Linked DNA regions of Homo sapiens. The protein of the gene in region 1 interacts with the protein of each later gene in a pairwise test. Each region holds a gene or a part of one and is shown on either strand. Other genes may lie near its edges.

The links. The genes of interacting proteins can lie anywhere in the genome.
Region 2: the proteins of VBP1 (region 1) and ZNF488 interact in binary tests that used the Homo sapiens proteins (3 or more experiments, as listed by UniProt).

Annotation. Positions count from the first base shown.
Region 1 is NC_000023.11:155,219,058-155,226,741, reverse strand, and holds part of VBP1 (prefoldin subunit 3), read right to left. Parts: intron 6,560-7,684; coding exon 6,435-6,559; intron 1-6,434. UniProt on the Homo sapiens protein: Binds specifically to cytosolic chaperonin (c-CPN) and transfers target proteins to it. Binds to nascent polypeptide chain and promotes folding in an environment in which there are many competing pathways for nonnative proteins.
Region 2 is NC_000010.11:47,374,051-47,381,734, reverse strand, and holds part of ZNF488 (zinc finger protein 488), read left to right. Parts: intron 1-873; exon of another isoform or gene 874-2,227; intron 2,228-7,195; exon of another isoform or gene 7,196-7,274; intron 7,275-7,684. UniProt on the Homo sapiens protein: Transcriptional repressor. Plays a role in oligodendrocyte differentiation, together with OLIG2. Mediates Notch signaling-activated formation of oligodendrocyte precursors.

The DNA.
Region 1 (7,684 bases):
CCAATCCCCTATCCAGTGATGCACATAGCTACTCCTGGTGTGTGCATTGGGTATACACACATGTACATCACAGTCAGCTAAATGCCAGGCAAAGCACAGTGACACCTTCTCAGTATGTGCACTTGTCACACTGTGAAAAATGTACAGAATCATCTGAATGCCAAACACACCACATTATGATACAGTATAATTTAGTGATTCTTTTAAGCTTTGGGTATTTCTTCCTTAACTTTTATGTTGATAAATGCTCTTCTTTTCAAATGAGGTAACGATCGTTCTTAAAATTATAAATGGATCACTGATTTAAACACAAGAAATTTAAAAAAACAATGATGGACATGATACAACTGATCCGACTTAATGGATAAGTTATATGATAGCTACTAGCAAAATGCTAGTAAGTGACTCCCAAATGCAATCAACCTCACTGACAAGAACATAAGAGAAAAACAGTATGCTAAAAACATTCAGTCAATTAAAGAGAGAAAACAATGATACCGTTTTTGTCACTGGGGTTTAGCTCTTTATGGTAATTAGATGCATGTGTTTTGCATGGAGATATATGCAAAACAGTTCTAGGGTCTCTGTCAAATGTAATTTCTAGCAAAACAGACTAAGGATATAAAAACGAAGCTCTGGTTCTTTCGAGGTAAATTTACTAAATATTATTAGAGACCAAAATGTAAACAAAATATAAACACAACAATGAAAATGAACTTATTGCGTCACATAAAAGAAGTCACTCCATGTGTGCAGCAGGTTGGCAGGGCAAATTTACTACACCCTGTGCTACTGACCTGGCAAGAAATGTGTTAAATGAGCCTGCTGCTTAAGAAAAAAACATAGTGTCATCATTTGATAATACAGTCCAGTGAATAATCTAGAAACACCTAGCATTCATTTTTTCACTACAATTCAATCTGGATGCCATAGATTGCTCAAGTTTGCTTATTTTTGCATGATATGTTCATATAGGTAAACAGAAAGATGTTATACATTTGTAAAATATGTGATACACACACAACATAAGGAGTATGTTCAGATCAAGATTTTTTGTCATGTAAATGACTTTTAAGATGCATTCTGTATATATAAATATTATATGTAATATGCTATAAAGCATATTAATGAATCAATCAGATGCAGCCCTAGCTAACTTAGGAACCAGACCACCAATGACACAGCACATGCCCAAGCAATACACTCCTCCCTACCCTGCTTCACCTGAAGAGAAAGTAGCTTGGCTGGGCACAGTGATTCACGCCTGTAATCCCAGCACTTTGGGAGGCCGAAGCGGGTGGATCACCTGAGGCCAGGAGTTCGAGACCGGCCTGGCCAGCATGGTGAAACTCAGTCTCTACTAAAAAAAAATACAAAAAAATTAGCTGGGCGTGGTGGTGCATGCTTGTAATCCCAGCTACTTGGGAAGTTGAGGCGGGAGGATCCCTTGAATCCAGGAGGTGGAGGTTGCAGTGAGCCGAGGTAGCGCCACTGCTACCCACCAGGAGTGACTTAAATTACCCCCACCTCCACGTACATTACTGGCCAAAGTAGCTGATATCCCTGAGGGAATCTAAGCTGACAGGGAAAAGACATTATAATTTGATCATTATAATAAATAAAGACAATAAATTCAACAACCTCTACCATATGAAACAAAATTAACAAATACCAAAAGATAAAACTATACATTAAATACTTAAAGATACCACAAAGAGAAAAGAAAGGATATTGGTAATATGAAGAGGAACCAACCAGAACTACCAGCTATAAAAATCTTAACAGCTGAAACAAAGAACTCATGGCTATCCATCTAATTGCCAAAAGATAAATGACAAAGACAGAAAAAAGGGAAATAATATAAATAAATGGAAGGCAGAATTAGAAGTGTCAACATCTGTAAACAGGAATCCCAGAAAGAAAGAGGAAAAAAAATTAACAGACGATAGAAAAAGTGATAATCACAAAATTTCCAATTAAAGAAAGATAAAAGATCTCAGATTCAAGTGTCGAAAAAGAGATTAACACATGAAATACTAAGGAACTTTTACACAGCTTGAAGGGTAAAGTTAAATGACAGGCTGCAAGATTTACAACACATACAAAGAAAAAGGCTAGCCTCACCCTCACCCTCGCCCTCGCCCTCTTTGCATGGTCTCCCTCTGATGCCGAGCCGAGGCTGGACTGTACTGCCGCCATCTCGACTCACTGCAACCTCCCTGACTGATTCTCCTGCCTCAGCCTGCCGAGTGCCTGGGATTGCAGGCACGCGCCACCACGCCTGACTGGTTTTCGTATTTTTTTGGTGGAGACAGGGTTTCGCTGTGTTGGCCGGGCTGGTCTCCAGCTCCTGACCGCGAGTGATCTGCCAGCCTCGGCCTCCCGAGGTGCCGGGATTGCAGACGGAGTCTCGCTCACTCAGTGCTCAATGGTGCCCAGGCTGGAGTGCAGTGGCGTGATCTCGGCTCGCTACAACCTCCACCTCCCAGCCGCCTGCCTTGGCCTCCCAAAGTGCCGAGATTGCAGCCTCTGCCCGGCCGCCACCCCATCTGGGAAGTGAGGAGCGTCTCTGCCTGGCCGCCCATCGTCTGGGATGTGAGGAGCCCCTCTGCCCGGCCGCCCACTCTGGGAAGTGAGGAGCGCCTCTTCCAGGCCGTCATCCCGTCTAGGAAGTGAGGAGCGTCTCTGCCCGGCCGCCCATCCTCTGAGATGTGGGGAGCGCCTCTGCCCAGCCACCCCGTCTGAGATGTGAAGAGCACCTCTGCCCCGCCGCCACCCCGTCTGGGAGGTGAGGAGCGTCTCTGACCAGCCACCCCGTCTGAGAGGTGAGGAGCCCCTCCGCCCGGCAGCCGCCCCATCTGAGAAGTGAGGAGCCCCTCCGCCTGGCAGCCGCCCCGTCCGGCAGGTGGGGGGCAGCCCCCGCCCGGCCAGCCGCCCCGTCCGGGAGGTGGGGGGGTGCCTCTGCCCGGCCGCCCCGTCTGGGAAGTGAGGAGCCCCTCTGCCCGGCCGCCACCCCGTCTGGGAGGTGTACCCAACAGCTCGTTGAGAACGGGCCATGATGACGATGGAGGTTTTGTCGAATAGAGAAGGGGGAAATGTGGGGAAAGGAAGGAGAGATCAGATTGTTGCTGTGTCTGTGTGGAAAGAGGTGGACATGGGAGACTCCATTTTGTTCTGTACTAGGAAAAATTCTTCTGCCTTGGGATGCTGTTAATCTATAACCTTACCCCCAACCCCGTGCTCTCTGAAACATGTGCTGTGTCCACTCAGGGTTAAATGGATTAAGGGCGGTGCAAGATGTGCTTTGTTAAACACATGCTTGAAGGCAGCATGCTCGTTAAGAGTCATCACCACTCCCTAATCTCAAGTACCCAGGGACACAAACACTGCGGAAGGCGGCAGGGCCCTCTGCCTAGGAAAACCAGAGACCTTTGTTCACATGTTTACCTGCTGACCTTCCCTCCACTATTGTCCTATGACCCTGCCAAATCCCCCTCTCCGAGAAACACCCAAGAATGATCAATACTAAAAAAATTAAAAAAAGAAAGAAATAGGCTGAACTCACTTATGAACAGAAATTCAAAAATCCTAAATAAAATAATAGCAAATTGAAAAAAAAAAAAAACAAAAAGGCTAGCATGTAAACTACATAGAGCCATCTGCTGCAAAACAACTAGATCATGACACAAAAATAGTTTTGTTGCATAGCTGACATCATAGGAGTGAGAGAAATTCCAGAAAAATAAAAAGAGAAAAGTAGCCCTCCAACTACTTGGGAGGCTGAGATGGAAGAATTGCTTGAACCCAGGAGGTCAAGGCTGCAGTGAGCTGTGATCACACCACCGCACTCTGGCCTGGGCAACAGAGAGAAAGCCTGTCTCAAAAAAATGACCAACCCACTATTAAAATAGGTAAAACTCAAGAAAATTTTCCTAACTCACTATCTCCAACTCTACCATTCTCTTTTAAAACACTAGACAAACACTGTTCTCATCCAGAACACCAACGTTCACTGATGTTTCCTAAGTGCTTTGAATTTTTACCCCTTCTCCCCACATTTAGGCCTAGACCATATGTTAAGCTAGAGTGAGTATCCTGCTACATACCACAGTTGTAGAGTTAGCAATATAACTTTTTTCTTTTTTTTGTTTTTGTCTATCATTAATTTACTAGTTAGAAGAGCAATTTAAGTTTGATACGCAAATTTCCCCCTCTCCCAGGACTTGGTCCCAAGGCCCATTTTCTTTTCCTTTTTTTCTTTCTTGAGACGGGGTATCATCACTCTGTTGCCCAGGCTGGAGTGCAGTGGCACACTCACAGCTGACTGCAGCCTCAACCTCCCTGGCTTAAGCAATACTCTCACCTCAGCTTCCCTAGTAGCTGGAACTACAGGCATGCACCACAACACCTAGCTAATTTTTGTAGATATAGGGTTTTGCCACGTTGCCCACACTGGTCTTGAACTCCTGGGCTCAAGCGATCCGCCCACCTTGGCCTCCCAAAGTGCTGGGATTACAGGCATGAACCACTGCACCCCGCCCCAAGGCACATTTTCTTCTCTATCTGTAACCTCCCTGTAGGTGATCTCAAATCCAATGGCTTTATTTTTCTTTTTCAAATAAACTTTTACTATCACAAAAGCAGTACATGTACATTGTAAAAAATTAAGAAAACAGCTAAGCAAAAACAAGAAAAATGCCATATTCTAACTACCCAGAGATTACCACTGTTAATATGCCTTTAGTGTGGATTTCTCCAGATATTCCTGTGCATACATACATTTTTTTCCAAAACGAGAGCACACTGTTCTTAATGTTTTCTATCTTGCTTCTGTCCATTAACACTCTCCATCTTTCCATGTCAATGACTTTTCATCTCATCTAATACTCAGTACATATTCAACTTTGTACAACTGTCACCAAAATCAAATGAGAAAATATACCTACAAACTTCTGTACCTTTGCATAAATGGTGCCTTAGGCCCAGACTACCCCTTCCTCACTTTAGTCTGCCTCCAAACTCACAACTAATCTTTGAAATTCTACACAGCTATCTGTTCCTCTTAGAAGCTTCCTCTGAACCTCCTTGGCCCCTCCAGGTTAATGAGGTGCTTTGGTACAAAGTAATGAGTTACCATCCCCCTGTACCTCTACTGTTCTACTTTGTGTGCTAATTTTATTTATATACCTATAATTTCCACCAAACTGTGTCCCTAGTTTTTTGTGTGGTTTGTTTGCTTTTTAGACTGGGTCTCGCACTTTTGCCGAGGCTGGAGTGCAGGGGCATGATCACATCTCACTGCAGCCTCAACGTCCTGGGTTCAGGCGATCCTCCCACCTCAGCCTCTAGAGGAGCTGTGACCACAGATGCATGCCACCATACCCAGCTAATTATTACTATTATTATTTTTGAGATGGAGTCTCACTCTGTTGCCCAGGCTGGAGTGCAGTGGCACAATCTCGGCTCACTACAACCTTCGCCTCCCGGGCTCAAGCAATTCTCCCAACTCAGCCTCCCGAGTAGCTGGGATTACAAGCGCATGCCACCACGTCTGGCTAATTTATTTGTATTTTAGTAGAGACGGGGTTTCACCATGTTGCCCAGGGTGGTTTCAAACTCCTGAGCTCAGGCAATCTGCCCACCTCAGCCTCCCAAAGTGCTGGGATTACAGGTGCGAGCCGCCGGGCCCAGCCTAATTATTTTTTAATTATTTGTAGAGACGGGGGTCTCCCTATGTTGCCCAGGCTAGTCTTGAACTCCTGGACTGAAGTGATCCTCCCACCTCAGCCTCCCAAAGTGCTGGAATTACAGGTTTGAGCCACCATGCCCAGTCCTGTGTCCTTGTTGAAAGCAGATACTGGATGTTATTTCACCCAAAACAGTATGTGGCATCTAGCTGGCATTCCATAAATATTTATCTTACAGAAGAATGCTGGCACATGCACAAAACAGAGATCTATAAATATTTATTACAGTGAATTGACTTTATAAGCTATATAAAATAATGTAGGGAAATAAAGAGTTGAGAGTAAGGATAGCTTTTTTCCTATGCCTATTAGTTATGAAATCTTGGGATTTCATAACTAATTAAGTCTTATGCCCAGACTCTGTGGGTCTCTAATCTCACTGGCAAAATTAGAAGGATGAACTAGACATATAAGACGTTATGATTTTGAAAGCTTTGGAATACAGTCTTTAACAACCATTCTATTATGTTTTCAAAACCACATTTAGACTGGCAATACCAAGTGTTGGCAAGGATACGGAACAACTGGAACTCTTGTACGTTGCTGGTGGGAATTTCATATGGTACAGCCACCTTGGAGGACTGAACACTTGACATCTGAATATTTTATTATATGTAAATTATATCTCAATTTTTTAAAAGTTCAAGTCATATAAGATTTTCAAAACTTAGAAATTTTTACACTTACCTTCTTTTCTTTTGAGCAAGGTTGAGTTCCATAAACTTATACTTCTGGTACTGTTCATCCAGCTTCTTTAATACTGTATCTGCAGTCTCATTCCCAGGCTGTTTCATGAAGGAATCTACATCTTCCTTTAATATCAAAAATAATACTTTACAAATTTTAGAATTCATGCCACTCAGATTTTTTGACTGCTTTGTTTTTAAAACATAGAAGAAAAAAAAGCTTTGTTTTTCTCCAAAGGTTTGTTTTTAACTAAAAGTACAGGTTAAGCACCCTTATCTAAAATGCTTGGGACCAGAATTGTTTTGGATTTTAGATTTTTTTTTTTTTTTTAGATTTTGGAATATTTACATTATACCAGTTGAGCATCCTCAATCCAAAAATCCAAAGTCCAAAATGCTCCAATGAGCATTTCCTTTGAGCACTATATTGGTGTTCAAAAAGTTTTGGATTTTAGAGCATTCTGGATTTCAGATTTTCAGATTTAGGATGCTCAACCTGTAGTTATAAAAAGTTAGAGACAATTTCAGATGGTACATATATATTATATAGCTAATTTATTCTTTCACTTTCCTCTTCATTTTTTATTCAAAAATAGGAAAAGAAGAATGACCTTGCCCACCACTTTATGCATTTCCCATGCATCCCTAGTAGTAAATATGAAACTAACAATCAAATACATTGCCTATTCATGCATCCTATTCACAAAATGATTTTACAGGTTGCATGTCAAGATTATCAATTTTATTACTTATTTTTAATTCAACAAGTTTTACCATAGAAATCATACTAAATATGGTTACTGGGTTCCCAAGGCAATCCACAAATGCTTCCTTCAGTATCAAATAACTGAAACAAAGTAAACCTAAAAGGCAAACAGAATAATCTTTTGTAACAGTAATAACTGATCAAAAGAAAAGCAGTAAAACTGATGTTAAAATATTTTTTATACCACATGCTGATCCTTGAAGAAAGGCTAGTTAATTAGATAAGGATCAGAAACAAGATGAAAATATATGAAACTTAAAAGAGATGCTACAAGAGTCGTCTAGTACTTTACAGAACTCTAGTTCTTTATTATAAGTAACTTCAATTATCTTATAGCTTCTAAGATCTTCACATCATTATTCTTATCCATATTTACTAGCTACCAGAGAATATCTTAGCTGAAACAAGGAAGAAAAAGGAAGAGAAACACAGCAAGGGAGTGAACTAAGAAGCCATCAAACTAGACAGTAAAGGAAATTGAAAAG
Region 2 (7,684 bases), on another chromosome or scaffold:
CCCTATGAGGGTCGACGTGGCCAAGTTATGTTGCACTAGGGCCACTCTCCCTGCTTCCATGGGTACTGGCTGTGTTCGCAGTCTCCTGCACTTGGCTTTCCTCGAATGCAGCAGGCATTGCTGCTAGAGGGGTCCAGGCGTAGCTGGCCACAGAGCCTGTAGGGGCTGACCAGGAATTGCTCATCTCCCCAGTGCCACCAGCCAGCCTCTGGGAAAGCCTGGATCACCTTCAGTGTTTAATTTCCTCAGTGTGCCAGAGCCAGGAGGATTCCTGGAAACAGGTGTATTCCCTTTCTTAGGAAACCCCAGGACCTCACAATCCAAATGCAGAAAAGGCCCGTAGATGATTGTCCTCTGGAATCTTCCAAAAGGGTCTGGGAAGCTTCTGCAGAGACTAGGGATACCAAAGGATTAGAAGACAGGAGGTATTTTCTGCTCTTGTGTGTTTTAACTGAAGAGAAAAGCAGATGCAGCAAAGCACTGCTTGGGGGGAGCGGGTGGGGGTACATGGTGTCTCTGAATAAGATCTGGTGCCTGACCTGCAGCTCAGAACAGCTTGAGGCTGGCCAGTTGGCTTGGGTTAGGGAGTGACTTCAGACATCCCAGGAAAAAGAGGTTATCCAGATGTTTGCCAAGAGTTCTTTCTTCTGTAGGTGGAGCAGGAAGGAGAAAAATGCCCAGGCTGTTTGGTCATTTATTAAACACTGTTATGCACTGGTCCCTGAGAGCTCAGGAGTAATGGGAAGGCTGCCATGGAGTGGACTCTGTCCCTTTGCACTCAGTGCGATAAGAAGTGATACCCCTAATGTTTACTGAGCCAGGTTCCTTAGCACTTTCTCTATATTAATCCTTCTAATCTTTCCCACAACCCAGTGAAGAAAACACCAAGGTGACCCTCTTTATAGATCAGAAAACAGGCCTGGAGGGGACCCACGCCTTGCCCAAGGTCACAGGTTGGATACAGCAGAGCTGGCCTCCAACCGTGGAGCCCGTGCACTTAACATCTATTTGGATGGAAGGCTCGAAGGTTACCTGAGACAACCTGGTCAAGGTGATAATGTGGGAGAATGTGGCCAGTGGTTCCCAGATGAGTGAATGATCAGTGTGCAGTCACCAGAGGATGGGTGATAAACCGAGAACCACAAGCTCTTAACACTGTGGGGTGGGCGAGGCTTCATCTCCCAGGATGCAGCACTTGCTGAGTTGGGCAACAGGGGACCCTGGTTGATGGCCCAGGTTGGTTGGAAGCCTTTGGGAGATGTGCTCTGTGTTGGTGGGGAAGGCCAGGCATGGTTAGATCCCCTGTAGACTTGGGGAGCTCAGTTTCAGAAAGTTTCAAAGATCATCACTTGATTTCTGTGATTCACGTGATCTGAGGGCTCTGAAAGTGGTGGGTGAGTCCTGGAATTAAATCTGTTTTTTTCAAGTAGGAAAGACATGGGGTGGCAATGAGAGACATCTGTGTGGCTCAGAAAGATGTCTTGCTGAGGTCAGAGGGACAAGAGCCAAGGAGAACAAGAGGAGCCCTTCCCAGGACACTCACAATGACAGAGTGACGAGGGCCAGTAAAGAGTGTCAGGGGGTGAGAGCCCGGGTGTGAACTGAACCTACTGAGGAGAGCTGACGACCACAAAGCATCTTTTCATATCATGTTCGGAGCAAGGAGAACAAGGGCTTCATAGATCCATCGCCGTCTAGGGCAGCTGGTGTCTGTGAAGGGGAGGAAGGCACAGCTCCACTGTGCCCACAGCGGTCTGGACAGAGGAGGATCTGCAGGTGCAAAGGGCGCAGGCAGGTTCCCGGAGGAAAGCAGGAGCCACGTAGCGTGGGCTGCAGTGTGTGTGCTCAGGGCTCTGACCAAGAGAATGCCCTGGCCAGGGTATAGCATGACCTGGAATGAGATACCCCCATCTGAGGTGCTGTCTGAGAGGTGTTGGAAATGAAGCCCGGAGGTGGAAGAGACTCAAATCTGATGTTGGCCCTGGGAAAGATCCTAGACTAAGAAGAAGGCTGTGAGTCTGTGGGCAAAGGAGAGACGTGCATGAGGAGCTGGCGGGGGCTCCCTGGGGACAAGTCATGCCAGCCTCACGTCATTTTCCACCTTGCAGGTCTTCGGTCTGGCCCTTGTTCTGTTGGGGTTCTGGAGGACGTGCTGTGCCCTGGCCTTACTGACCTTACTCCATGCAGTGCTGATGCATGCGACAGCGGTGACCCTCCAGGGTCCCAGGTGGGATGAAAGGTCCCCAGCTAGTTCCTAGTTTCATCTCCTCATTTTCTCCATCCTCCTGCTCCTTCTTATTAAGATCTGGATGTTAACATTGATGGAGTGTGAAGCTGGGTGGGATATTTAATTCAGCAGTTGGCGGTGTCAGGATCCACAGTGGTCTCTGAAAGCTGAGATGCTGCCCTGAGTTTATCGGGATGGCATTTGGCAGATTGGAGATAAGTGCATCTGAATTGAGACACATAGCTTCCCTCATATGGTTTTTATGAAAATGAAATGAACAAGGTGCCTTATTTCATTTGTTAATACTATTGTTTGTCATGTAGATACTTACGTAGCCGATAAATGGTAACTTCTATTCTGATACCCTGAAGCATCCTGATAGCAAATGTTCCATCCTGCTGTAAAGGAGAACTGGTTTCTTCCAATTAGTCATACATGAGTAGGTCTGGGATGGCCTGGAGAGACAGCTTAGCCAGAGCGCATTTTACAGATGGAAACCTGAGGCTCAGAGAGGTTGAGTGCTTTGCTCGGGAACACAGAGAGGAGTGATGTTTCTGCCTCTGCCTCTTTGGGAGACACTGGCCGACATTCACCTCTGACGTCAGGCACCCCCTCTGAGGAATCCACTCAAAAAGGGCATCAGGAGTGGTGTGGAGCCTGCTGCACCACGTGGTTTGCGTCCTCTTCATGAAGTCACACGGGGTGGTCTGCAGGGCAAGGCGGGGTGGCGATGTTCCACAGGAGCTAGTCAAAAGCTTGTGACAAAAGGGAACGTGAGGTTTTATGTTCACTTTTCTTGCTTTCTCTCTGATTTATCCCATGCTTTCACTCCATGAGAGGGTTGGGCTCTCTGTCTCATCTCCTTGAGAGCTCCTGCAGGAAGTGGCTGGACGCAGGTACATCCTTTCATGGCTGGGCGGGAAGCAGGGAGAGGAAGAAGCTGATTTGGCCCAGGCTATATTTATGCATAGCAAGCCATGGAGGCTCTCATCCACTCCTAGATTCTCCCTGAGCCCTGGGATAAATATTTTCTAAGGATGAGAATTCTGGAATGCTGAGTGGAGTCTGGTTCTGCCAGTACCTCTCACCAGTGGAGGGGGCACTTGAAGAGCTTGAGTTCTAGTTTCCAGAACTTGAGGGTGGGGCTGGTGAGAGCGGGTAGGGATGAAGGCATCCCAGCAGGGCTGATACCACCTCCCCATGGGTGCCACCTTTACATGTGGTCAGTGCATGTCTTCCCTTCCACACCGTGGGCACTTCCAGGGTGAGGCTGAAAGCTGGTCCATCCATGGAGGTCCAGTTTGGCACAGGCAGGCAGTTCGCGAAGCTCTGCCAGGGGAGCAGAGAAGCGAGTGGATCCATGTGTGGGGAGAACCAAGAGTGAGCACTTCTGGCGAGTGGAGATGAGGTTACACATGCTCTCTCTAGGGGCAGGGCCAGGTGGTGGGGTGGCAGCCCCTTAGTGTGGGGGTGGGGGCCAGGCACAGCCAGACCCATCCTGCCAAGCCTGCATGTGCATTGCTCCAACTTTTGTCCTTCTGTGCACCTATGCCTACAGATCCCCTGTCCCCAGGTGCCTGAAGTGGCCTGGCACTCCTGAGGGTCAGGAGAAAAAATGAGTATGGCAACCAGCAAGGAAGGAAAACTGCCCTCAACCAGGGTGCAAACACAGTCGAATTAAGTCAGAGCTGGCAGGCAGAAGCCCTGTGTGCTCTGTGAATGTGGCAGCTGCTGCTAGATGCTGACAGGTGCAGGGGCAGGGCTGAGCCGGCGCCTCCGGGTGGCAGCCGTGTGTGTGTGTGTGTGTGTGTGTGTGTGTGTGTGTGTGTGTGTGTGATTGTTATTGCTGGCTCCTCTGGGTGGCAGCCATGTGTGTGTGTGTGTGTGTGTGTGTGTGTGTGTGTGTGAGATTGTTATTGCCGGCATCTCTGGGTGGCAGCTGTGTGTGTGTGTGAGTGTCTGTGTTTGATTGTTATTGTTCTGTGAGAGAGTCCTGGAGGTATAGTGCTCTGAGCTGAGGTGAGTTGTCACATCCATAGCAATCAGGATTCTTTGGATGCAAACCACAGCGATGGACTCTGGCCAACTTTGTGAAGAAGGAATTAATTAGAAGGTTATGGTGGCAGGTAGATCACAGTGTCAGAGGAAGAACTGGAGAAATAAGCTCAAAAAAGACCGGGATTGAGCTATTCAGAGAGTTCCAGTACCAGGCACACATAAGCAGCTTCTCAAACTGAAACTGGGTTTGGTTAGGAAGGATGCTGAGTAGCATAAAACAGAACCAAGCCATCTGACTGCTCTTGTCGTAGAGATCGCGTATTCCTCCTTTCCTGTCAGCTGGTTTAAAAACCTGGGGCAAAGGGGGACCCTGCAGTCCACCCCACTCTTCCTGAGATGCCCTGCGGGGGTTGCAGAGATAGATCAAACACAGGCTGTCTCTCCCCAGGGACCAACAGTCCAGTAGGTGATAGCGGCAACACTGACTATGGCCAGGCAGGCTGCTGAAGGTGGTCTCTGCAACCCGAGTCAGCATGGCAGCCCTGACGGTGTTTTGGTGTGAGCAGCTCGCAGATGCAGCCCAGTTGTTTTGCTTTCTGGGCTGCTTCTTGAGGGTCACCTCAAGTCTGCACACAAGGGTAGAGCTGCAAGCTCTGGAGGGAAATAGCACTGGGTTATAATTTCCACTGGAGGACATCTATAATTTCATGTCTCTGAGTGTGAGTTTGGCCACAGGCTCCTCTGTAGGTGTCTGCACGGGAACCAGTGAGGACCCTCAGGCTTGAGCCCCCATTCTGCTGGATCTGGTGGTCTGGAAGGCTGGGCATAGTGTGACTGCCTCAGCCCCTCCATTTGTGCTAGGGCTGGGGGAGAAGGAGGATGGGGTGGGGAGTTCTCTGACTTTGCACGGTGGGAGTACACCCTTCTTGGAGGATATGAGTGCAAATGGATGTCAAGGAGCCCAGAGCTCTTCAGAGCAAAGAGCTGGGCAAATTCCTGGCTCCCACTCTAACTCTCTCTCCTTATTCTCCCATACCTCCCTCGGCAGGGTTGAATTTCACAATTGGGTCTGACCTGGCTTAGTGTGAATGAAAAGTGGTCGTTTACAGGAATCCTCTCTGTCTCGCTGAATTCCTGCCCCTCAGTCTTTTCCTCACGATTGAAATATACCCAGCCCTTCTTTTCCACTAGGACTTTGCCTGTGCCATCTTACCATCCCTGATTGGTGAACTCGTATTCATCCATCAACACCCAGAGATAATATCACCTCCTCAATGGGACATTCCTCAGGCACCCCAGGCAGTCCATGGTCCATCCCTGATCTTGAAGCATTTCTCCCAAACCACTCAAGTGGGCTTGTCTCCATCCCAGGTCCTGTTACGAAGAGGTGTTTTTCTCTCTCATTGCATGTGGAGCAATACTTCCATGCTATTCATCCTGTTATCACAGAATAAAAGAACGACTGTCTCCCCTAAGAGATATGGTGTGGGTCCCTGTGGCTAGACCATGTGATCTTACCCATAAACAGTCCTCACAAACACTCTCGATTTACGTCTAACCCACTCTTGTCACTGCCTGGCATTCGCGTGTGCCGTTCTTTCTGCCCTCTCTTTTCTTTGTATCTGTCTGCCCTTTGGAGGCCTCCTGCCTCTTCCAGGAGGGTCTCTCTGATTATTCTGGTGCCCAGAATTAGAAAGTATATGGGGTACATGCTGTGGTGTGTGGTAAGTGTTTAACAGCTGGTTCTCAGCATGTAGCTGCAACATGGATTTTGGGTGATATTTTCATTTACAATAAAGTGTAAGATGAAAGTGGAACAATGAACATATGTCAGAACTTCACTTGTTTGTCAGTGATCTAAATAACTTCTTTCCTAAATCACATAATAGTTTCGGAATACTAGAAGAATAGTCCCTCAGCTTTTTGTGAGCTATTCACAATATAACAGCTATCGACAAGACAAAAATTTCAGTTTAATCTGCATTATTGACAATTTTTTTCCATTACTTTCTTAAGTCCAGACAATGAACAAAACAAGAAATCAAGCCTTGATTTATAGCATTTCCATAAATAATCCCATTCTGGCTGATTCCCTGATTTCTGGCCACTCACGATATCCCTGGATGTGGCATGAGGAGGAGTGGACCGTGGCAAGCCCCCGCACCGGCAGGTGGAGCAGCGTCCACAGCGTAGGCAATGGGAATGTGTAGTAGAATGACTAGGAAATGATGGGTTCTGAGTATGTATTGCCTGTGTTTTTAATATAACTTCTTTGACTGTAAGTTTGTATAGTTTAGTTTTGAATAATGTCTGAGTTAAAACAGCTAACTTGAAACATTCCTGATCATCTCACAAGCCACTGTGAGCTGGCTCCAGCACACCACTGGCTGCATACCAAGAAAATCAAGTTGCAGGCAGAGACGAAAACCTTCAGACAGAATTGCGTGGCTGTGTCCACTCAGTTTCGTCAGGGGGTGAGCTTTATTAAGTGCCACAGTAACAGATACTGTCATTGGTTCAGTCAACAACTGTTTCTAACCCCATCTCACTTGGCTTTCCTGCACTGCAGAGGTTGGGAAGCTAAATCCATGTTTCCCAGACTCTTTTGCAGCCAGGGTGCAGGCCTTTGACACAGATCCTCACAAGCAGCCAGATACATCACCCAGCCCCGGATGTGCAGTCGAGTCCCATGAGCTGAAGTCTTTGGCATGCAGGTGATATCTGTCACTCACGGTGGCAGGGACATCTGGACTTGTGGGGTGGCTGTGGTGGACTTTGTAGGAGTTTGGTCCCTTGTGATTGGTGCTGGTACCAGCAGTTTCTACTAGACAGTGCCAGGGCATGGTTAGGCTTTTTTTTCTGGCTACCCTGACCCTTGGAGAGCTCCCAAGCTTGGTCTCTGGCTCTCACAGGGATTTAATGAGCTGCATGATAGCCTTTAATAAGTTCCTTTCTGTTTAAACTACCCAGGTAGAGGCTGCTGTCTGCAGGTGGGAAGCCCTGATTGCTGGAACCTAAGGGATGTGAGAAATCACTGTGGAGTGTCAAGGTAACCAGGGATCTGCTCCTGGGACCTATTAATCCACCTCTTTTAGAAGGAGTCCACAGTCCTGTTTGTATTTGAATATTCATGAACATTAGAAGAGCAACTTAGTCTGGGTATGGCTATGGCTGACAGAAGTATCATGCTGTGTCACAGCTGATTATTAGATCTGCATTTTTTGCCCTTTAGCTTGTCAAAATAATGTCTAAAAAACCAGATTGATCACAAAAGATGCATCATAATGCCACATAAAGATGTCACTCGGCGCCTTATAGTATTTAGGACCATAGAGGACACCTGGTGCAGCCTCCTCATTTTGCAGCTGAGCAAGATCTTTGAAGGACAAGGACCTGCCCAAGGCCATCTAGAAACACTGAAGTTGAGACTCATACCCGAGCATCTTAGCTTTTGCCCAC